Linked DNA regions of Homo sapiens: region 1 is linked to region 2. Evidence: fine-mapped expression QTL. A gene starts in region 2. The other region holds a variant in brackets. All regions are shown on one strand. Distances are between the middles of the regions.

Region 1 (11,907 bases), 82 kb before region 2:
TACTGATACATGCCACAGCATAAATGCACCTTGAAACATGCTAAGTGAAATATCTAAAGAAAAAAGAAGCAGCCAGATATCAAAACCCATATATTGTACGATTCCCTTTATACAAAATATCCAGAATAGGCAAATTCATAGAGACAGAAAGCAGATTGGTGTTTGCCAGAGGTTGGGAGGAGAAGAGAATGAGCAGTGGTACTGATGGGTACAGGGTTTCATTTTGGGGTGATGAAATATTCTGGAACTAGGTAGTGGTGATTGTTGCAGAACATTGTAAATGCATTAAATGCCATTGGATTTTACATTTTTAAATGGTTAAAATGGTAAATTTTATGTTAAGTGTAGTAGAAGGAAAGACACTTGTTCTTCAGGGCTTTGAGGAAAGATAGGCTCAGTTAGTTGTGCCTATATTCTACCACTTACCAGCTATGTGGCCATGGGCAAGTCACTTAAACTCTCAGCTTCCATTTCCTTATCTGTAAAATAAGGGTAATTATAACAGTACCTACCTCGTAGGGTTTTAAATCTTAAATGAGTCAAAATATGCAAAGTGGGCCGGGTGCCATGGCTCACACTTGTAATCCTAGCACTTTGGGAGAACAAGGTGGGTGGATCACCTGAGGTCAGGAGTTTGAAACCAGCCTGGCCAACATGGTGAAACCCCATCTCTACTAAAAATACAAAAATTTGCCAGGCACAGTGGCACGTGCCTATAGTCCCAGGTACTTGGGAGTCTGACGCAAGAGAATCACTTGAACCCGGGAGGCAGAGGTTGCAGTGAGCCGAGATCGCGCCATTGCACTCCAGCCTGGATGACAGAGCGAGAGTCCGTCTCAAAAAAAAAACCACCAATAAAAATTAAAAAAAAAAAATACACATATATATGCAAAGCGCTGAGTATAACACTTGGCACATAGTAAGCATGATATAAATATTAATATTTGTGTTATTAATTTAGCCCAGTATTCTCAACTGGAGACAGCGTTGCTTCCCAGGGAATATTTGGCCATGTCTGGAGACATTTTTTATTACATACTTAGGGGGAGGGGCTCTACTGGCATCTAGTGAATACAGGCAAAGAATGCCACTGAACATCCTGCAACGTACAGGACAGCCTCCCACAACAAAAGATTATCTGGCCCAAAAGACCATTCGTTCCAGTGAGAATCCCTGGTTCAAACAGAGCATGTAGGGAAATGTGCTTCATCTCATGAATGTATATATTAAAATAGGTCAGGTAGAAATTTTCATTAGAAGAAGACGGTCAGCAAATGTATTAAATGTCCCTTGTGTATAGAGAACACTATATTAGACATTACGGAGCATATAAAATAAGGCAAGGAGCTGTCCTTGAGGAGCTGAGATAAAAAAGAGCTCTGTGTGATGGGGTTATTTCAGAGAGAAGTTTTCGCCAAGAGATTACTGTAATCAGTTTTCCCTTAATAAGAGGGTGATCTGAGGTCACCCACACTGCTCCCAGTAATGCTCGCTCAAAGGCTAACACTTCTAGTCCCCTGTAAAGAAGCATCCTAAGGGAATAGTGTTGGTTCCTTCACTTGTCTGAATGTGTCTTGTGTTTGGGTAAATTCTATTGAATCAATAGCTGAAAAAGAAATCACTGTCACAAATGGAAATAAAAATTACTTGTTATACATACAAGCACAGACATGAAAAAATATTAAATCTCATTGTATTCAACCATCCATAGACCAAAAGGAGGAGATTCTTTTGGCCACTTTCCATGTAAATAGTTATTTGATCAGATTCTAAAAATGGTATATTCATGTCATTAGTCCAGTCCACATCACAGAATTTGCCCTTACACAAATGGCTCACCATCAAAAGGTCTCTCTCGCTTTGCTAGCAGTGAAGGTTGGGAAAGGACCCTTTTTGCTTCTCTCCATCTTTTTACCTGTAGACTAAGGATGGGAAGCCCTGCAAAGGTATGCCAAGCCTTCACTTAACGCCTGCCATAACAGTTGTCCTTCAGAATGGGACAGTGGGAAGAAGGGCCAAGGGGCCTGGTGAAGCCCATTAAGAGAGTAGACCCCTGGAGGGAACCTTGTCTTTGGAAGCTGAGGCAGTGGATGGGTGGTCACAGGAGGGACTGGAGACCCCGCACCATGCAGTCCTCTTTGCACACCTTCTTCCACAACCCTGGCTTCCTATATGTACATGTGCTTTCTAGCAACTTATATTTATTCAGTGTCTACTGTGGCAAGGACTCTTATTAGACACTTTTGTAGGGGGAAACAAAAGCAAATTAAGCATAGAGCATGTCACAGTGAGTTCTCAGTGTGGCAGGGATAAGAGCTGTTATAGTCACTATAATACAAGACAGAAAGTGACAAGTGCAATCAGAAAAATGTGGATAAAACACTATGGGATTTCAGAGGACACAGTTGGCCTTCAGTGGGGAGTCTGGGGAAGTCCTTTTGGAAAGGGTAGCATTAGAATCAGAATGTAAATGTTGGTGAAAATGTAGATATGTTGAAAGGATGCTAGAATATTCTAAAGAACAGAGCAAGCTACCAAGGTTAGCAGTTAAGTATGTCACAGAAGAGATGTTGTAGGATTTGTGGAGGGGAGTGTAGGGAAATAGGATGAGCTGGGTACATTAGGATCAGCTCATGAAAAACCAGCAATGCCAGGACACAGTTAAGCTATGGAGAAGCATGGGTGGATTAGGAAGATTGTTGTAGAGCGATGTGTAAGGTGGACTGGAGAGATAACAAGGGTCTGAGTTATGTGGGGAAAGAAAGGTAGGGAGAGGCCAGACTCAACCAGTATCTGAGATAAAGCATTTGTCAGGACTGATGGCAGGATGAGGCAGCACATGGGTGTACCGAGGCAGCAGGACACAGTGTTGAGGAGCATGGGCGCTGGACACAGATGCTTTGTGTTCTAGCCCTGGTTCTGCCACTTAAACTAGGCTGCATGTCCTTGGGCAAATTGCTTTACCTCTCAGTGCCTTGCTCTCTTCATCCAAAAGAATCGGGAATAAAAATCTTGCTCCTCACACCCATATGCTGCAGATTAAATGAGTTAAGTGCCTTTGACACATTCTAACGTCCTCTGACACAGCGTAAATTATTGTGCTCAATAGCTTAACGTAAAAATTGGGTGTTATTATTGAAGGTCATGAGAGGATGAAATGGGAGGATGAACTTTTGAACCAAGTTAAAATCATGGTGTTTACCAGGAATAAAGAATTACACATGGGAAGGAGTGATCTTTGGTTACTCTTCACAAGGCTGCTTGGAGGGACTGCAGCATGGGGCCCTTGTTTGAGTAGAGGACAGGACTGCCCATCTACATAAAGGCCCAGTTATCTAGATCTTGTTTTCTAGTTCCTAAAGCATTAATTTTACTGTCTGGCATTAGCTGCATTAATCTTCACCAATGAGTCAGGAGTACTCCCAAGACATCAGGATTTCCCTGCTTCTTTTCATGGGGAGACCTAGGATCAAAGAATTAGGGTCATGGGAGACCATCAAACAGATGATGCTTTTAAGAGGAAGGAGGCCATTTTCATAGGCTTGGGCACTAACAGAATGAACACTGAAGATGTTTTATTTAAAAGAAAAGCAATTATGATGTTTTGATTTTAGGTAAGGAATATTGTCTTGTCTGTGTGGGTTTGAGCAGAGTTTGTTCGTGCAGGAAGGACAGGAGAGACCGGGGAGTGTCCTGAGGCAAGACATCCTGCCTCTTATTCTGCAACTTTGCAGAACTCAGAGTGGAAAAGCTTTGCTCTCCTCTGATATCCCATTTGGTGCTCAGACTGTTCCAATGTAATGCATGCATAAGAATAAAAATTAAGCTTTCAAGTGCTAAGGCAGATTTTTAATAAAGAGACATAGGCTTTACCCCTATAAGATTAAACAGTCATCAGGGTTTAAAGGTTTAATCTGTTGGAGCTCAGCCCAGGATGGGGTTCAGAGCCCCAGATTAATTGGATGCAGCCTCAGACTTTGAACGTCAGAGCTGGCTGGGGGGTGTGTGCGCTGGTGTGTTTGAGTGTGAAATGTGCTAATAAGGAGGAGAGACCTCTCCTTTGCAATGTGCTGCGGCAGGAGAAAGCAGGCTGCCGGCCCCTGCCTCCCTGAATCCTCAGTGGCTGACTGGATACCGCTTCTGGGGGTTGCTGTGCACATGAATGTTTGCTATTGTTCCAGGCGCACGTCGGCCTTAAGAAATAGCACAAAACAGGCCCATCCTTATTCAGAAGCCGGGCCCCCTCCATCACTCAAACTGGGCCTTTCAGGTCACATGCCGGAGGCTGCTGCAGACAGGACCCAGCTGCCTCAAATCTGCCGCCTAACATAAGCTGCGGTTCGAAAATCCTGACAGCACAGGGCTTCCTGGGCTCTGCAGAGCAAACTGGAAAGAGCTGGGATCCAGGCACTATGTTCTCTGAAGAACTGTGGCTGGAAAATGAGAAAAAGTGTGCTGTGGTTCGGAAGTCTAAGCAGGGCAGGAAACGCCAAGAACTGCTGGCCGTAGCCTTCGGGGTGAAGGTGGGTGTCAAAGGCGGCTTTCTTTGGCCCCCTCTCAAACTCTTTGCCTGTTCACAGATCTCCTCCCTGGTTCGAAGGGCTGCCCTCACACACAACGACAACCACTTCAATTATGAGAAGACACACAACTTTAAGGTAAGCAAGCCTCTGCATTCCTTCTTCTGTTACAAAAGGGCAGGTGGAAAGGTACAGTGTATAGTTTCCGTCTGGTTTCTGACTGTAAAGTCAAGAGACAATGAATTCCTTTGCTTTCCACATTTAGCTATAAGCTTAACACCTGCGCTTTCTGTCAGTTCAAACTGGAGACCTCAGAAAGCAGTCTGCTCAGTGCTTATGCCTGGAAACACCTTATCTGGATGTTGACTTAGTTTTGGAGAATTGGGCCCATTGCCACTTCACGTTCCCATGTCCAGTGAAATAAACACAGAGCATGCCCAGTCTCTCTCAGTCAGAGATGTTCTGCTGAGAGCTGAGCAGTACTTTTCCACTCAGTAAAGAATATTGCTGTCTCCGAGCAAGGGAAAACAGTTGCCTGTTTCTCGTTTTGTGTTTTGTCTTTTGTTTTCAGTGATGCTAACTCCTTTCCTTTATGCGTAGACACCTGTGAAATCAAATAATGACAGGAGATGCCATCCAGAAGCTTTTATTTGTGCTCCGGGTACGGCTAGCAGGGGGGGCACCCTTGGTCACAGCCTTTATCCTGCTCACCAGACCAAACAAAAAGATCTGGAAACCTGGTGAGGGGTTAAGTGGAATTTCCCAAGTGAATTTATAAACTGGAAAGACCGCTAT[G/C]TTCGTTTCAGACTGGTACTTGTAGAAGGGGCCTGCCATCAGAAAATTATGGCCTGTTTCCTTTGCCCAAGTGTTTTCCAAGAAGGGCTGGAAAGGGATGCTGCTGCCAAATTGTCTAGCTTGAATTGCAGTTGAGAGGAGGAGAGACAGGTTAGAGTTAGAGGCTTCACCCCAAAAAGTGAGCTGGCAGTTTGAAAGTTGGGGAGAGTGGAGATGGAGGATCCAGGAAGAAAACAATAGGCAGGAGAAGCAAAATGTGAATTGCTTTCTTTTAAAAAAATTCTTGTTTCCTTTAGGGTCAGTAACCCAAGTGACTCTTGGAATTAGATAACCCTTTTGTCAGAGGTGACGAGGGAAACTGATTTTATTCTGTTGCTTTCCGATCCTTTCTGAGGACAAATATTCATCTATTAAATATACATTGGTGTTAGTTTGGTCTGTTTCCCTGCATCTGTTTTTAGAAAGCCAGCAGCTCAGGCATTTGCATGCTATAATTGAACTGAGGAATGGAATTATACAGCCCTACATACTTAGCATTAGGGTGAAGAATTGCATTGCATAGGTCCTCTTCTATGCCAAAGCTTTTCATATTTCTCCCGTCACTGAATATTGACAGGTCTAATTTGGAGCATTAAATGCCTCCCGTTTTTTTTTTTTTTTTTACTCTGTTTTCCATTTTTATCCTCATTAATTTTTTTTGGCCTTAAGAAAGTGTTTTTTTGATTTTTAGCAGAAATCCTTGATTTTTTTGCATCCTGTGGATACACTACTAGTGATGAGAGGATGGATCTTCATGGACTTGTAAATTCTTTTTCTTCCTCTTGAAAATTCCAATTCATTTGGCGTTAAGAAATTGGAATTATGCCATACTATAATATGTTTGCATGGAGTAGCTTGTCCATGTATATTCTGTGTCTGAGCTTGTGTTAAAAACACACAAATATACATAGTTGATATTTTCAAAACTAATTTCAGTCCTTTTAATGTTAGATCCCTGAATGGAAAATTAATCTTAAGACATTTTAAAACTAAAAGATAATTAAATCTTATTTTTTAAGTAGTACTGTTGCTAACACAATATATTACTTATCACTGGAAAACACCAGCAGCTCTTCTAATATTTGTTTAAAAACTCAAAAGCTATTCACCGTTAACAGCTCTTGAAAGAAGAAAAGGCACAAAATAGAGAAGCTGTTCAAGAGGAGTACACAAGCCAGACAGGAGCGTTTCTCTTCCATGTTTTAAACAGACATCTTTGAAACTTAGCAGACCTCAAGTAGCTGTGACAGTTGATTGTGGCATTCGATGGTACTGTTGGTGCCACTGTCCTTAAGAATGAGTGGCAGGGGCCAGATGAGGCATCCCCTTTGTCCTTCCTTGCCCTTTCCACCCTCAATCTCCCCACTCCTCACCCGCAACTAACTCTAGGTGGAAACTTTACATGGTTTTTGGAAGAACATTCAAAAAGCAGGCTCAGGCTATAAATACAGTGGCAGGTTTTTAGGGACAAGCCACTGAACTGAACTAAAGGAAGAAAATTCTTATCCTAGGTCCCTGCCATCTGCTTGGAATTTGTGTTTCAGACCTTAATTTTACATTAGCTTTTTATTTACATTAACTTCTAATGGGCTTTATTCAGAAGCCTTCTTGATTTGTAATTCGGGTTAATATTTGAGGCTACTATGTGCATAGCATATAGTAAGCAGTCAATAAAAAGAACAAATAATCACATTTTCATGCTCATCAGATAATAGGCTTTGCTAGGTGCTGTCTGCACTTTTTTCTTTTTTTTTTTTTTTTTTTTTTTTTTTTTTTTTTTTTTTTTTGAGACGGAGTCTCGCTGTGTCTCCCAGGTTGGAGTGCAGTGGCGCGATCTCGGCTCACTGCAAGCTCCGCCTCCCGGGTTCATGCCATTCTCCTGCCTCAGCCTCCCAAGTAGCTGGGACTACAGGCGCCCGCCAACACACCCGGCTAATTTTTTGTATTTTTAGTAGAAACGGGGTTTCACCGTGTTAGCCAAGATGGTCTCGATCTCCTGACCTCGTGATCCGCCCGTCTCGGCCTCCCAAAGTGCTAGGATTACAGGCGTGAGCCACCGCGCCCGGCCTGCACTTTTTTCTAGAGGCCTCCTACCTGACATTCAAATTTGCCAGTAGAGTTTCTCTTCTTACCCCATAACAAGATTGTTTGCCCCAGTCAGAACTATTACCCCAGGTAAAAAGCCCTTTCCTTTGCTCTGCCCAGGAACTTTGTCAAGAGGAATGAATAGAAACCCCCAACATTCCCTAAGTTGGGACCTTGCGCTCTATTCTCTCAGAAAGCTCACAGTCACTGCCTTTGCTTCTCAAACAAAGCTTGTCTAAGCAAAGTAAAATTCGGCTCTGAGAACAAAAGCTTTGGGAACCAAAGGACAGTTGGCACCTCATCGCATGCAATAATTGTATACTTTTCAACACTGTGTGCTGATGCAATCTTTGCTTATTTAAAGCCTGGATTTCCTAGGGTTACTTGTACCTACTAGGCACTGAGACGTATTTGTTGGAGGAATGGTGAAATTAACAGACTCCTCTCTAAAATGAAAACTGTTTGTCAAGAGAAAAACCACTCGGTTATTTAGCTCATTTTATAACTGCATCTCTGTTTATCTAGTTGATTTAAGGAGGCACTCTGCTGTAACTGGAACAGCTCTCTTTTGAATGGTCCACCCTAATAATACCTTATGGCTGAGCTCTGAAAATCTTCAGGCCAGCCAACCCCAGAGGCCCGGCAGTCGGCTTGCTCGGCTTCCTGCCCACACTTAGCACAGTGCTGAGGTAGCTTTAGCCCGCATAGTACTCCTGGCCACACCATGTTCTTCCAAAGAGCTCAGCTCTCTCTGCCTCAGTTCCCTCATCTATAAAATGGGAGTGTTGGGAGGTTTAAAGAATACATGCGAGTCACTTATCGTGGTCTCTGGCACCCAGTAAGTATTCATTTGATGTTAGCATCTATTATTATCTTTTTGTGCCTCTCACTTGTATTTTTGTATCTAGCTTTTTCAGTCTTTTATTTTCTACCCTCTCTTCTTCATGGCTTTTTTTCTTTTGTCTCTTTTCTACCATCTCTTTCTTCTTCTCTCATTAATTATATGTAAGAGAAAATGAAATAAAGCCTGATGGTTATTTCCTTGAATGTATTCCATCCTGTAGCCAATACTGGTTTATACCCCTCGTTTGTTTAAAAAGTAAATGGATGACTTAGATGATTTAGATTTAGATTTCACACATTTTTCTCCTAGCTTTTAAAAAGTACTTTCTATTAAAGCTGTCATAACAAATGACCACAAACTTGGTGGCTTAAAACAACACAGATTTATTTGCTGGTGGTTTTGAAGGCTGGGAAGTCTGAAATCAAGGTATGGGCAGGGTTGGGTCCTTCTGGAGGCTCTGAAAGAGAAACTGCCCTGCAGCTCTCTCCTAGCTTCTTGTGGTTGCGGCAGTCCTTGGCGTTCTTTGTCTTGTAGACACACCACTCCAATCTCTGCCTCCATCTTCATATAGCCTTCTCTGTATGTCTCTGTATATCTGTCATCTTCTTATAAGGTTGCCAGCCATGGGATTTAGGGCCCATACTAATCCAGTATGATGTCGTCTTAATTATATCTTCAAAGACCCTATTTCCAAATAAGGTCATATGCACAGTGACCCAGGGTTAGGAGTGAAGCACACCTTTCGGGGGATATACGATGCAACCCGTTATAGGAACTGTAATTGACATTTTCAGGAACCCTCAATAGGAAGGATCTCTAGCCTCACCCTAAAGGATGCATTGTCAGTAATGTTAAAGTTTACAGTTTCATTAAAGATTTTTATGTCCATGAAAAAAGGTCTTTAGATGTAATCTAATTGCTCCTAAGTGTCAACCCCTTGGTCCAGGCATAACTGCTGATTTCCATGGCTATTGATTTTAACATCTGTAAAGAAAAGTTTTCATGGATTTTTCTTATCAGTGCTTCATTGCTCTGATAGAAAGTGGTGAAACTTAGTTATTCTTTGTCTCTTATCTTTACCAAGCATTTCTTCATTAAAAGAGGCACCAAAAAAACTTTAAAATAGCTGGTGAGCTTCCATTTTTAGTAGCAAGTTGAAAGTGTCTATTTGCTGTAGCTGGTTCATATTCAGAGTATGTGTTATACTTTATAATCAAATTTATGATGTAGCTATTAGTTCACACTAATATGTGTGATTGATTATGCAGGACTGGGCAGGTAATGTGTGAGACCTAGTATAAAATGAAAATATGAGGTTCTTGTTAAAAAAAAAAATTGAGACTTTCAAAACTATGACAGCAGCACATTAAACCATGCTAAGGACAGGGCTCTGTGCAACAGCGCAGGTCACATGCGCCCTGAAGCTGACCCTGTGGTGATGTATAAAAAAACAGGAGTAAAAGACAAGCTTCTGTGAGCATTCAAAGAGGAGGGGGCTCCCTAGTGCTGGAGATCCTGTGTAAGAGACAGTGTGGTTGTTCTCTCAGCCTTAACCAAGAATCCTCGTGGGTAGGTGGAAAGTTGGCTGAAGCCCAAGTAGATAAATAGATCAAGGATGGTTATACAGGGGAAAGAAAGAGCACCCGGGCTATGCAAACAACAGGAGTGAGAACTTGGAGTCAGAAATGTGCCAGGAGCGAATAAGGTGCAGGGGAGAGACCTCGGGGACAGAAAGGAGTCCATCACATTTAAATCATCAGTTGGGGTGGGCCAGATGGTGGAAAGATGATGATTCCTGGGCCCTGGAGCCATCAGAGTCTCCTGAGCAGGCCCTTCCCCCACTCAGCCTGCTGCTTCTGTTCCCAGCCTCTCCAGTCTGCATGGGGATCTGCATCACTCTTTCCTGCCAAATTCTCTCCCACCCCCATGCACTTCCAGGATACCCTTCCTTCTTCCCGATATGGAATATGGATGGAGAGCAGAGGCCCAGAAAGTTCTAACCCCCCTCACTGTGTGTTCCCCACTCCCTTTCCACCCCCCTTCCACCTCCTGCCCAGCCTGTACCAGCTTCCCTTTTCTCCCTAGCGCTGATCACCAGCTGACATCGTACATATTTATGTGTGTGTTTGCCTGCCTTCCCCTTACCAGAGGGAAACTCCCGATGGGAGGGGGTGGGGAGAGAGGGTTCGTGGAGTGGGGATTTTTGTCTGTTTTATTGACTGCAGAAACCCCAGTGTCTAGAACAAGTCCTGGCCCACAAGCTGTTCATTCACGTTGGCAGAAAGCAGGGGACCGTATCTCCCTACAGTTGAGCTTTCGGAGCCCTCTCCTCACTCCCTGCCCTGCAGTTTGCCCTCTTGTGCGGCTTGTGTGTTGTATGCACCTGTGTTCATTGTACTAGAGTCCTTCCACGGAGTGGGCCCTTGCCAGGGTCATCAGATGGCGCAGGAGAGATGGAGGCCCTATCAGGATGTGTCGGGCCAGCTCTCAATCCCCATTTGCCAGGGATGGTGACTGTGCAGTGCTACCCCGTGTCTGATCCATGGGAGCGGGCGGGTAAGGGGGAGGAGGGATCTGTCCCAGTTCACTACAGCTGTCCTGTGTGGCGCCTTTCAAAAGCATCCCATCAGGACGTAGGGGAAATGGTTGCCCTACTTACTCTTATATGTCCCCCACTCTGCTGACAGACTGAGGATGCACCAGGAGCACCCCGTTCCCATGGCACACCCCATCGCGTGTGCTCTTGTAGCATGCTCCTTCTCAACATGCAACCCCCACCCCGTGCTATCCTGGAGGCCAGGACTAGAAGTTCAAGAAGCTAAGAATATGTCCCCACGCTCCCACTAAAACACCTGTCCAGGACGTGGCAGCACCACCACCTCCCAGTTTGGATTTGAGGCTCCTTGATGATTTCTAGGCCTTTCATTCATTTTTGCATTCTTCTCAGTCTAGTGGTCATTTGCTTTGGAAGAAGACTTTTTGCTTCCCGCATGCAAGCCCCTCTCTCTTCCTCTTCCCCCTTGACCTCATAAAAGTGTGTCAGCCCTTCGTGTCATTCCCAGCATTTTGTCTGCCTTGCCTTCTTATCAAGCTCCCAGGTGTCTATCACCCTTTTCTGTCCATCTGATGCTACTTCTGTGCCTGGAGAACAGGGATGGCTGGATATTGCACCTGCAAATTGACACAGGCAGAAATTGGCTTCAGAATGGTTGGGGGCTTGTTTTGTTTTTTTTTTGTTTGTTTGTTTTGTTTTGTTTTTTAAGTTAATAATCAGAAAAGGCTGTTTTGCCAGAAACAAGTCTGGAAAGAAAATTCAAAACAAAGGCAAAACTCATCACCTTAAATATAAAATGAGGGACTCAAAGTGAGACTGGAATAAACAGGTTTGGAAATATATGGCTTTATTAAAAAAATGTTGTTTCTGCTCCCAGAGTGCTATGAAGAGGAGTTGTTTTTGTCTACCTCCTAATTCAGCCTGCTCCACATTATAATGATTACAAAGTCCTTGTTTTCAAGTAATATAACCCCTGGAAACTATCTTAAGCTAAATAGACTATTATACAGGATGGTCTCATAAAGCCTCCAGGGAATACTCAGAACTCAGGGACGGGTGGAAACAGGAAC
Region 2 (11,907 bases):
GCGGATGGATGCTAAGAGGATTATATAATACATGGAGAGCACCTACCATGGTATCTGTCTCATGGTAACAGCTCCAAAGCTTAGCTTTATTCATAATATGACAGGAAAGGAGAGGATAGACTGGGAAAGGAGACAAAGCAGCAGCCAGAGAGAAAAAGAAGAAAAGACAGAACGGTGAATGTTTTCAGGAAGAGCCAGCAGTGTTGATGTTGCAGATAGGTCAAAAAGATGAGGACTGATAAATGTCCTATAAGCCCGGGGACCCTAGAGAAACCATGTTAGAAGGAGAGGGGTACAGATGCCAGATTGGAGTTTGGGTGAGAAAATGGAGACAGCAAGTGTAGAAGACACATCTGAGAGTTGGACTAACAAAGGGCGAATAAAAATATCAATAGGTTCCTATGGAGAAGGGGGAGGAGGGGCAAGGAGGGCTGTTACTCTAAGAAAGAGGCACCAACAGATATCTCCCAGTCCTTGCCTGTGGGACAGCTGACTCAGCAGATAGTGAGTTCCTCATTCCCAGCACTGATCACACAGACACTGGATGACCATTTGTTAAGACGGGTGAACAGGGAGGCTGATGACTTGCAGACCTATGATTCAGGGAAAGGGCTCGTGAGACACAGGGACTAGGAGTGGGGTCAGGAAGAGTCAGCTGGTGTTGATGAATTGCAGAGAAAGGTGGCATTGGGCAAAGAAATCAGCCTTGCTTAGGTCAAGTAGTACTCAGGGAAAATGTGTAGAACTGAAATAATTAGTAATGTTTTGTGACTATAATTTTTGAACTTCTAGATGTGCATGTGTGTTAACCTGACAAGGTACAGGATGAGATGCTGTAAAAAGTGGATTCCAATTTCATGCATGGGTAAAATCCCCACTCTCTAAATCCACAACACTGATGCATATACACAGAAAGAAGAAAAGAAATCGTAAAGTACTCATACATTGATGACTATAAAGAAAAAGGACAGGAGAGATACATGCGTAATTTCCAAAAGCTGGAGGAGTCCATAGAAGAAAGGAATGAAGAAAGGGAGGGAAAGGAAAAAATGAAAAGAGTAAACATGAAAACAAGTGGCAAAAAGCTCAAAAGGACTAACACCAAAACATTAACCAGGCTCATCCCTGAATGAAAAGAACATAGGTGATTCTTATTTTCTTCATTTTGATTAGCTAGATTTCTATATTTCTTTAAATTTCTCATCTTGTTTTTCTCTTTGCCTAGTTCCCAATACAGATGCTTCAAAGGAAGATAATACATTTCTCAACCTACCATTCAATGCCAGATTTGCTAAGAGAGCAGATGCCATGTTAACCTGTAAAAATCTGATTTTAATTGCTAGTGCAATGCTTGTCCTCTAATAATTCCTTCTCTATTGTCTTTGAGTATAAATATTTATTGCACTTAAAGGTTCAATTTAATTTTTTAAAAGAAGCAATTTTTTTTTTGAGATGGAGTTTTTCTCTTGTTGCCCAGGCTGGCATGCAATGGCGTGATCTTGGCTCACCACAACCTCCGCCTCCCAGGTTCAAGTGATTCTCCTGCCTCAGCCTCCCAAGTAGCTGGGATTACAGGCATGCACCACCACACCCGGCTAATTTTGTATTTTTAGTAGAGACAGGGTTTCTCCATGTTGGTCAGGCTGGTCCTGAACTTCCGACCTCAGGTGATCTGCCTGCCTCGGCCTCCCAAAGTGCTGGGATTACAGGCATGAGCCACCAGGCCTGGTGCTAATTTTTTAAAAGAAAAAGAAAAAATGTGTCCTCACCCAAATCATCAATGCATTTTTGAAAAATAATGACAAGATAAATTAAGAAATGTAAGCATTGTCCAGTTAAAGCATATGTCAATATTGTAACATTAAAAGTCATCTACTATTAACTAAATAGATGAATCAACTTTTAAATGCATCTATCATGTAAGATGTCTAGCTTAACAATACAGAGCTGTAGGGCCAGACCATGTCCTCCTTGTAGAACCAAACAATATGATTCCCAGATCAATAGTTACAGAACACAACTATACTTGTAATACTAACCATTTGTGTGTGTGTGTGTGTCTTGGTGGGGAGAGATTAAAACAGTTCTAGATGCAAAAATGGAGAAAAATAAGTCTTAATTGTTTAACACTGTCTTTAAAAGTCAAATTACACTGATATCTCAGATAATCTGATGAACCTCACCTTTTGGTCTTACCCCCAGTTTACTTATCCATGCACTATACATATGTTTTATCTACCCATTCCCTTAACTCAAAATTTTACAGATGCATTCTCTGCCTCTAAAAACTTGCCCATCACTTTAACATTTCACTAAATCCTCCTTCTGGGAAGAACTTTTCATATTAGTCCAAAAAAATGTGGCAATATTAGCTTTTTTCCCTTTTGGACAATATCGTCTCTTCCTCTAACTAAAATAGTCCTTACCAAGTAGGAATGGGTTTGGCTACAAGTAACAGAAAACTGTGTTTAAATCTGTGGTTAAACCACAGGGATATGTACGATCTCACTGAACTAAAAGTCCACAGGTAGGTGGTTCCAGGGTTCCTTCAGGGAATGGATGGTGTAATCGAGGACCTAGACACTTCCACACTCCCATGCCATCATCCTTAGCATGACGTGTCCTATTCCCATCCCTGCTGCCTCACTGGCTGCTGTCACACCAGACGTCACATCCTCATGCTGTGCTTAAATGCAAGCATCAAGGGTGTGGCAAAAGATGTTCTCTCAGGAGGTTCTGTCCTTTATCTGGAAAAGAAGCATTTCCAGAAGTCTTCCTTATAGCCCCATAGGCCAAAACTGAATCACTATGGCCACTCCTAGTCACAGGGAAGGCTGTGAAAGTATTTCCCTTCTCAGCTTCTAGTCAAACTCAATCTCCTTATTTGTAGGAATTAAATGAAATAGTGCCCTGTTGATTCTATCTCCAACATTCCTGTTGCATCCACCTAATTATCTTCATCCCCCACCAAATCAACTCCCACCACTGTACTACAGGCTTCAGAATATCCCACCTAAAGTCTCCCAACAGTTCCTAACTGGTATCCTGATTGCCCCATTTTGTCCCCTCTACCATCCACTTTTTTTTTTTTTTTAAGTCTTTCTCTGTTGCCCAGGCTGGAGTGCAGTGGTGCAATCATAGCTCACTGCAGCCTGGAACTCCTGGGCCCAAGTGATCCTTCCACCTCACCACCTAAGCACCTGGGACTACGGGCTCACACCACAACACCTAGCTAATTTCTTCTGTTTTTTTTGTAGAGATGGGGGTTTCCCCATGTTGCCCAGGCGGGTCTCAAATACCTGGGCTCAAGCAATCCTCCCACTTCAGCCTCCCAAAGTGCTGGGATTACAGATGTGAGCTGCTGCGCCTGGCCCATTCTTTTTTGAGATGGAGCCTCACTCTGTCACCAGGCTTGGAGTGCAGTGGCGCGATCTCGGCTCACTGCAACCTCCACCTCCCGGGTTCAAGCGATTCTCCTGCCTCAGCCTCCTGAGTAGCTGGGACTACAGAAGGACGCCACCACACCCAGCTAATTTTTGTATTTTTAGTAGAGACAGAGTTTCACCATGTTGGCTAGGATGGTCTGAATCTCTTGACCTCGTGATTCACCTGCCTCGGCCTCCCAAAGTGCTGAGATTACAGGCATGAGCCATCGCGCCCAGCCCCATTCATTCTTTATACACCACTGCACAACATTTAACTGCGAATCTTACCATGTTCTTCCTCTTTAGTGGGTTGTGGTCCTGAATGTTCTGGTCACACCCACCTCTCCAGCTTCAGCTCCCTCTCCTCACTCAGATCACATGCGCCTGCTCTTTGCCTCTCAAGAAACCTCAATTTCTTCACACCTCCAAGTTGTTCACACGCTACTTCCTCCATCTGAAATGCTCACCCACTCTGCATCTCAGCTAATCTCTCCTCAGTTTTCATGTCTCTCCTTCAATGTCCTCCCCGTACACAAGGGTTATTTGTAAGATGTTGTTATTAAGTTCAAAGTTGCTGAATATAAATGAGAAAGGGCATGCAAAATAATCTTTTTTTTTTGTTAATTTCAGCAGTTAGTAGAGGTTTGCTTATTAGTAAAATGTTGACCATTTTGTTAAAATCACACTTGAGGAGCCAGTTGGCAGAACTTATTTTCTTTTCCTGAATTTTTTATTTTCACCCATATGCTCAACCAACAACGTAAAAACCCACCTCCATAGCTCCCTAGTGGTGATGACTCCTCAGATAAAGGCATTCTTCCATGATTCAATTTCATCTGTAAAGTAATGGCACTATGATGAATTATCCCATTCTCCCCTCAAAGTTGGTGGCCTGCCTTTGTTCAATCCTGCTTCTGTGATTGAAAGTTTATGCTCTAAAAGTAATCCCGAGAAATATATAAAAATGCATGACTTCCAAATACCCTGTGCTGTGCATATCATAGAAATTCAAAGAATCCCAAACTAAAAAGTAAATCATATATTCATATTTTTATCTTTCACAAATTGAAATACTCTCTAAAAATTTTTTCTACTAATTCTATATTGCAAATTATTTGAGTTAGGCAGTATGTCTTTCACTACTTTTTTTTTTTTTTTTTTTTTTTACAGACAGAGTCTCACTCTGTCACCCAGGCTGGAGTGCAGTGGCCGGATCTCAGCTCACTGCCACCTCCACCTCCCAGGTTCAAATGATTCTTGTGCCTCAGCCTCCCCAATAGCTGGGAATACAGGCGTGCACCACTACACCCACCTTGTTTTTTATTATTATTTTTAAGTAGAGACAAGGTTTTGTCATGTTGGCCAGGCTGGTCTCAAACTCCTGGTCTCATGTGATCCACCCGCCTCGGCCTCCAAAGCGCTAGGGTTACAGGCTTGAGCCATCTTGCCCGGCTGTCTTTCACTGCTTTTATACTGCAAACAGTTTTCACAACAGAGATGCTCAGTTGCTCCACACCCAGTCCTTCAGGGGAGTTATGCTTGCATATGAGCTCAAGGAACATCAAAATCGTTTTTTGAAACAAGAGCATCCTGGAAGATGAAGCAAGCTGCACCTCTGCCTTCATTAGTGAAAATGCCCTGTGCCAATATCTTTATGTCAAATGAATAAAAAGTACTCTTGGCCGGGCGCTGTGGCTCACGCCTGTAATCCCAGCACTTTGGGAGGGAGGCCGAGACGGGCGTATCACGAGGTCAGGAGATCGAGACTATCCTGGCTAACACGGGGAACCCCGTCTCTACTGAAAATACAAAAAATTAGCCGGGCGCAGTGGCGGGCGCCTGTAGTCCCAGCTACTCGGGAGGCTGAGGCAGGAGAATGGCGTGAACCCGGGAGGCGGAGCTTGCCGTGAGCCGAGATCGCGCCACTGCAGTCCAGCCTCGGCGACTGAGCGAGACTCCGTCTCAAAAAAAAAAAAAAAAAAAAAGTACTCTTATGTGACCAGGAGTGCAATCCCCGGTTCACTTCCTGCAGTGGCTCAGGGCTGGATTTACACTGCCCTCGTTGGGTGGCTGTCCATGGACTTCCAGGCCTGAAAGAAGGAAATTCACATCCTCACTGAGTCGTGTTAAGAGTCTCAGACTGGCAGGTTGTGGTGGTTAAGACCGTAGAAGCTAGAGTCAGGCCCCCTGGGTTCCAACCCTGCTCTGCCACGTACCAGACAGGCAAACCTGAGCAACCATTTTCCCGTGCTAGGGTTTCCTCGCCTGTCGAGTGAGAATAATAATAATAACAATACCTACCTCCTAGGGTTGCTGTGAGAAATAAATGACAATCCACAGAAAGCGCCTGCAACGGCGCCTGGCTGGCAAACAGCGGACTTGTTAATTACAGCCTTTCAACTAAGGGCGCCTGAAACTCGCAAACATTTTGCTCGGGTGTGGATTCGCTCCCGTTAGTTACAAACTTGGGATCCCGGGACCCGGAAAGCAAGGGGGAAAAATAAATCGCGATGGGGCCAAGGGACAGCTGCTGCGGCAACTTTTACCCAGCGGAGCCCACCTACAGCCTCAGCCTCCGGGTCTCAGGTCTCCGCCGTTTCTTCTCAAGGAGTCGGTCGGGGGAGCGGCACTGCACAGCTTTTCTCCAATCAGACACCTCAAGGCTGGCGCCTGATCCAATCTCCTCCCCTGGAGGGTGGGAACGCGAAGTTCCTACCTGCACCTGTGGCAGCGGTGACCGCCTCCTGGGTTATTTTCTTTTCTCCCCCAGCTGCCCCAGGGTTCTGGTTTCCCGAATCACTTGGCAAATAACCAGCAGGTGGGCAGATGTCTTTTTTGCGTTCCTACGGACGCGTAGGCAAGTTCGATGCGCCGGAGTGAACAGCCAGGGTCCCATCTCTCAGCCGGCTCCCGGGCGGTGCTAGCAGGGAAGAGGGACGCGCCGGCGAATGAAACACTACTAGCCCGGAAAGCCGCCCTGGACCTTCCACCCGGGCAGCGAGTCTGGCGGCCCCTCGCCGCCGCCCCCTCCGACCAGAACAGACTGCGCTGCGAGCCCCGGGCTTCCGCCGCAGCGCGCAGCAATTGGAGGTGCCAGAGGAGACCAGCAGCAGCACTTGATTTAGCTGGGCTGCGGGAATTCCGACCTGTACACTTTCCAGAAGCCTGATCTCTCCAAGTCCGCGCCCAGGGACTCGAGCCCCGGCTTCCAGGTTGACCCGAGCGCGCCCCCTTCGTGCTCTCGGCCGCGTTCACCGCGCGAGGCCTCCGGGTCCTGTTAAGCCCGAGCAGGTGAGCGACTGGGGGTGGTTCGGCGTCCGCCGAGACAGAGCCTGGCCCCGGGGGTCACCCTGGGGTGCTGCCTGGTACCTCCCAGGTACCCGCCTCCCGGAGCCCTAAGAGAGGCTGAAAACCACGGACGCTCCAGGACTCCGTTTTCTGTACTTTTGAGTAATTTGCCATCTTTTCCTTGCGCAATTCGTACAAAGCCCTTCCGTGCTCACAAAGTTGATGATTGTGAAGAAGAAAATGTAGGTTAGAGGAGAGGAAGCAGCATCAGGACACCTTACCACCACTGTTAGTAAATGACTTGGGGGTACGGGTTGCTTTTCCGATCTGCAAAGTAGGAGGGAATGGGATGTTTGCAGACGCAGTTGCTAATTGTGCCTGAGGGCGTGGGTGCCTTTTGTACCGAAAGAACTTTTGGCCGTTTTTTCTTGTATTGTTTTCAAGTCGCTGCCCGAGTGTGTCCTCAGGGCATCCTGGGGAGGAGCCGGTGTTGCGGTTTCGGGGCGCAGCCGAGGCCGCCCCGCCGCCTCCCGTAGGCGATCAGACTTCCTCTCCCTGGCGGTTCCGGGAGGAGAACCTCCTACAACAAACACCGCCGAAGTTTCCCTCTCCAGCGCGATCGCCAATCCCAGGAGCGCCCGGCGCGTGGGCTGGGAAGGAGCCGAGCGGAAACCTGGAAGTGAGCCGCGGCGCAGGCGAATCCTGCCGTTGCTGGTGGCAGCGCCCAAGAGACCCCGCACAGAAAGTGGGCTGGGAGTCTCGCTTGCTGTACCCGCACCTAAGTGCTCAGAAGCGGCCTTTCGCTCTGCAGAGGGGGGGTCTTAGAAGCTTGGGGAAGAAGCACATTGTTTCGGAGTTCCTTGTTGCGTTCTTTCTCCTTGGGAGGAGGGAATTGCACAAGGAAAAGAAGAGAAGCCTTTACTTTGTAACTGAAATTCTCCAGAGTTGAGTTGCGTCGTACAGACTCGGTGCATATTTTAATACAAAACTAAGGGAAGAGGCCATTTGATACTTGGCTTCATCTCAACCGTCAGCCGGGGGTGACTTCAAACAGACGCAAGATTGGGCTCTGGGGAGTAAAAGGAAGAATTAGGATGGCGGTTTTCAAGGGAAGTTAAGTCTAGACATGCTTCTTTGAAAGTCACAAGGCAGAAGTGGTCAAAAGTAGAATTTAAAAGAACCAAAACAAATATCATAAGCTTGTCCTTCTCTCCTACTGGGATATAAATTCTCCTAAGTATCTCATCGAAAAGGCTCCTGGGACGAAAGTCGATGGGGGCAAATCTTGGAGGGAAATTTCGTGACTGTTTGACCATGGACTAATTAATACCGTTCACCTGTAGAGAGGATGCACTTGGTTCCCAGCGCCCTCCTCCCAGGTGCTTATCCAAAGGGAGGCCGCCCTGGGTCGGATGGGTCACCTTTTGGCGTCCATCTACAGTCAAGCAGTGTGGACAGGGCGGTCATTTTCCCTCTAGAGACGGGTTGATTCAGAGGGGTGGGAACGTCCCTTGGGTCCCCCGGGCACGCTGACCACTGCACTGCACTTCCCCTGAAGGAAAGGCAAAGGTTGAAGCCAAAGAGTTCAAGGCTCAGCCTAGAGACCAGGTGATGGTGCCCTGGAAGACACTTCCGCCAGCACCCTATGGGGCGCAGTGGCGTCTAATGCTAATGTGGGCTACGTAGCTACGGGATTGGGTCGCTCCGACCCTGGCCGATCCGGTGCCAGACAGCATAAGGGAGGAAAGGGGACTGGGGGGGGCACGTGACTTCAACCAACCCAGTAACCAAGTTTTGTTTTCTTCCCCAGCACAGGCCGCTGCCTCAGCATCCACCCCGCAGCCCACGTGTGGCAAGCCGGGGAAGGGGTGGAGTGAACGGCCGGAGACCACGTGGAGAAAGGGGCCGCTTTGGCCCTTCCATCTGGGTGCCGGGAGCCCCTAGGCCCTCCGGCCATGGCCGACAGCGGCGATGCTGGCAGCTCCGGCCCCTGGTGGAAATCGCTCACCAACAGCAGAAAGAAAAGCAAGGAAGCCGCAGTGGGGGTGCCGCCTCCCGCCCAGCCCGCTCCCGGGGAGCCCACGCCACCTGCGCCGCCCAGCCCGGACTGGACCAGCAGCTCCCGGGAGAACCAGCACCCCAATCTCCTCGGGGGCGCCGGCGAGCCCCCCAAACCAGACAAGTTATACGGGGACAAATCCGGCAGCAGCCGCCGCAATTTGAAGATCTCGCGCTCCGGCCGCTTTAAGGAGAAGAGGAAAGTGCGCGCCACGCTGCTCCCGGAGGCGGGCAGGTCCCCGGAGGAGGCAGGCTTTCCTGGTGACCCCCACGAGGACAAGCAGTAGCCCCAATAGCCTGCGCGCTCCAGGACTGCCTACCCAGCACTACCCCAAACCCCCAGTTCCAAACCCGAGACTTCAGGCCCGCCCCCTTACGCGTTGTCTCATTCCACCAAATTCAGAATATTTACACAATGCCTTCATGATTTTATTTTTCTGGAAATTGAAGTGTCAATTGGGTTCTCAATATTTCATGACTCCAAGGATGCATTAAATATTTATTTGTGGTAAGAGAAGATACCTGCCGCGGAGGAGGGTGGCATAATTATTTTTTTTTCAAAAAGCTATTCTGGGGCCCTGGCCCCCTGGCTCCTGTCACAGCTCAGCTTGAACTCTGTAGCCTCTCAAATGAAGAAGGTGGCTGTTATTTAGGACTCTGTGGAAAGCAAATCACAGTGCTGTTTTTAATGCCTGAGAAATGCACTTTAGGGGTAGACTTATACCTTAAGTGAAGGAGTGGGGGAGGAAGAAGCATTCTTAAGTAGAAGCATTTTAAAATAAGGCAGGATTGCTTTTAATGTTAAACTACAAAACTGTACAGCCTATTTTAGTGTGGACTATTAAAACCCTTGCACTGTAAGGCTTAAGGTGACTTTTGTATTTTTTCCATTCCAAGACTGAATCCCATCATACTTAAAAGCAGGCAGGCAAAGTCCGAGGTGAGAGTTAATCATTTGCCACACAACATAACAGTGACTAGTGGAAAGCTGCAGGGAAGAGAATATTTCTGGAAACCAGCAACACCTGGACTGGAACTTGTTAGCCAGATATCCCTATTTATCAGCCAAATTCGAGGAAGGGAGAGAGGTACCAATTCATTATTCCTAAATTCACCTTTTACTTCAGTGCATTTTCATAGACTATAGTAAGTTACAATGCTAGTAATACATCCTTTTCAGTATCCATTGTTAAACTTACTAACGATTGTCTAAAATCAAAAAACAAGGCCAGGTACGGTGGCTGATGTCTGTAATGCCAGCACTTTGGGAGGCCTAGGAAGGTGGATCACCTGAGGTCAGGAGTTCAAGACCAGCCTGACCAAAAAGGTGAAACCCTGTCGCTACTAAAAATACAAAAATTAGCCGGGCGTGGTGGCAGGCACCTGTAGTCCCAGCTACTCGGGAGGCTGAGACAGGAGAATTGCTTGAACCTGGGAGACAGAAGTTGCAGTGAGCAGAGATCGTGCCACTGCACTCCAGCCTGGGCATCTGAAGGAGACTCCATCTCAAAAAAAAAAAAGACTGAACTCTGCGCAGCTAAAGAGGTGGGGGTATTTTCCCCACCCCTTTGCTTTAAAAGCTTATTTCCTTAAAGTATGCATTTATCTAGTTTCAGACCCTTTAGATCTAACAACCTGAAGATTCTTAACAAAAAGCTGTTCGCTTTTATTATGAACTTCAAGAAAAAGAGTAAACGAATACCATTTGCTTTGAGAAAATTACAAGAGAGTTATTGTAGTCGTTAAGAGGCACTGGGATCTTTTCCCACCACAATTCAGTTCATTTATAAACACCCAGAAATGCATGGCAGGAAAATTATATTGATCAAAGTGTATATCTTTGTAGATAATGACAAGCAGGAACTTAATTATAGCTTCTCGATTTGTATATGTAGACAAGCTATTTTTTTGTTTCTCCCAAATTAGTAATTTATAAAGTAGCAAAACAGTTCGATTGTTAAAAGAAATTTAACAAAGAAATTTGATGAAGATGGCTGAAATGAATTTAAATTAATGAATCAAGCTTTGGTGCCAGCAGAATAATACAGCTAATTTTGATACATGAGTTTCCACATACCAAAGGCCTTACACTAAAGGAAAGTGTATATCTAGAGGTTATGAACACCTTAAATTAAAAGAAAGTATGTGAGAGGACTTTTTTAAGCATGAAAAGACATTTTCATTGTATACGTAAAACTGGAAAGTGTGTGACCAAAATCTCATCCAGGTGGGCTTCCTGGATGAGGCAGACTACATTCAGTTTAAATGGGCCTACCATCTCTAGATTCAGAAAAAGAAGAGGGAATTGAGACTTGGCATGAAAAAAGAATTCATGATAAGGGACAGGATTGGGGGTTGGCAGAGCAACGGGAGTGAATATAGCAAATGTTGTCAAATAAGGCTTTGGAAAACCTTCAAAAAGTATTTCAATTTCACTCCGTAGAAAGTAATCAAAATTAGAGTAGGTAACTACCCAAAATGTTCTCTCCCTCCTTCAGGAAGACCGATAGATCAGGACTGTACCTATTTATAAAATTAAGTCTGCAATTACATAAGTTTAAAATCCTATACTAACCCTTTCATCCAGTTTTATTGTTTTAAAGAACTTTTTTCTTTAAAATTACTGTAGATGAACAAAACATTGGCAAGTTTCAAGGTTCTGTGTCTAATTTTGGATCCCATCCAAATCTACAATTGCTGCAGATAATCAATAGCAGACATATAGTAGAGCAATGGAACTTATTACCATATTAACATGACATCTTTACCCCACTGTTCTGAAAGAATTTAAAACCATACTAATGCAGTTATGACAGTGAATGCAATTCACAATCTGCCATTGAGGTTTGTAATTACATCGTTTTAAAGCAGTCCTAAATTATGCAGTGGGAGGAATACACTGATTTAATCCCAACTCAGTGAAATCAGAAACCAAGCAAAATTGGTGGGACAGAAAGAGCATAAGGAAGATGAGAGAATTTGACGACGTGTCTTGCTGGGATTTATGTGCTTTACAGATGTTTAATTACATTCCAATAGTATATACAGATTTAATTTTTTTTAACCTTGAGATAATTTATAGTAAAAAAAAATGCTGAATTAAATTTGCAGTCAGAAACTTTTCTTTAAATTATCT

Direction of the effects. Positions count from the first base shown, and alleles are read on the strand shown. Sizes are in standard deviations (SD) of each study's normalised expression.
In carriers of allele C in region 1, the expression in thyroid of the gene that starts at base 6,174 in region 2 tends to be lower than with G alone (moderate effect, 0.56 SD a copy in GTEx).

What was found.
Region 1: its variant is fine-mapped to the expression of PRR15 in thyroid (GTEx, PIP 0.98).

Annotation. Positions count from the first base shown.
Region 1 is chr7:29,475,699-29,487,605 of GRCh38, forward strand. It overlaps CHN2 (chimerin 2), which reads left to right. Exons shown (of 13, transcript NM_004067.4): 7 at 4,581-4,658. Among named protein-coding and RNA genes, the nearest start is that of PRR15-DT, 82 kb to the right of the region's middle. The variant G/C (reference allele first, on the strand shown) is at 5,316.
Region 2 is chr7:29,557,662-29,569,568 of GRCh38, forward strand. PRR15 (proline rich 15) reads left to right here and starts at 6,174. Exons shown (of 2, transcript NM_175887.3): 1 at 6,174-6,716; 2 at 8,524-9,632. The coding sequence starts at 8,669. The coding sequence ends at 9,058. It overlaps PRR15-DT (PRR15 divergent transcript), which reads right to left and starts at 6,030. Exons shown (of 2, transcript NR_183550.1): 1 at 5,727-6,030. RefSeq lists an enhancer at 7,797-8,660.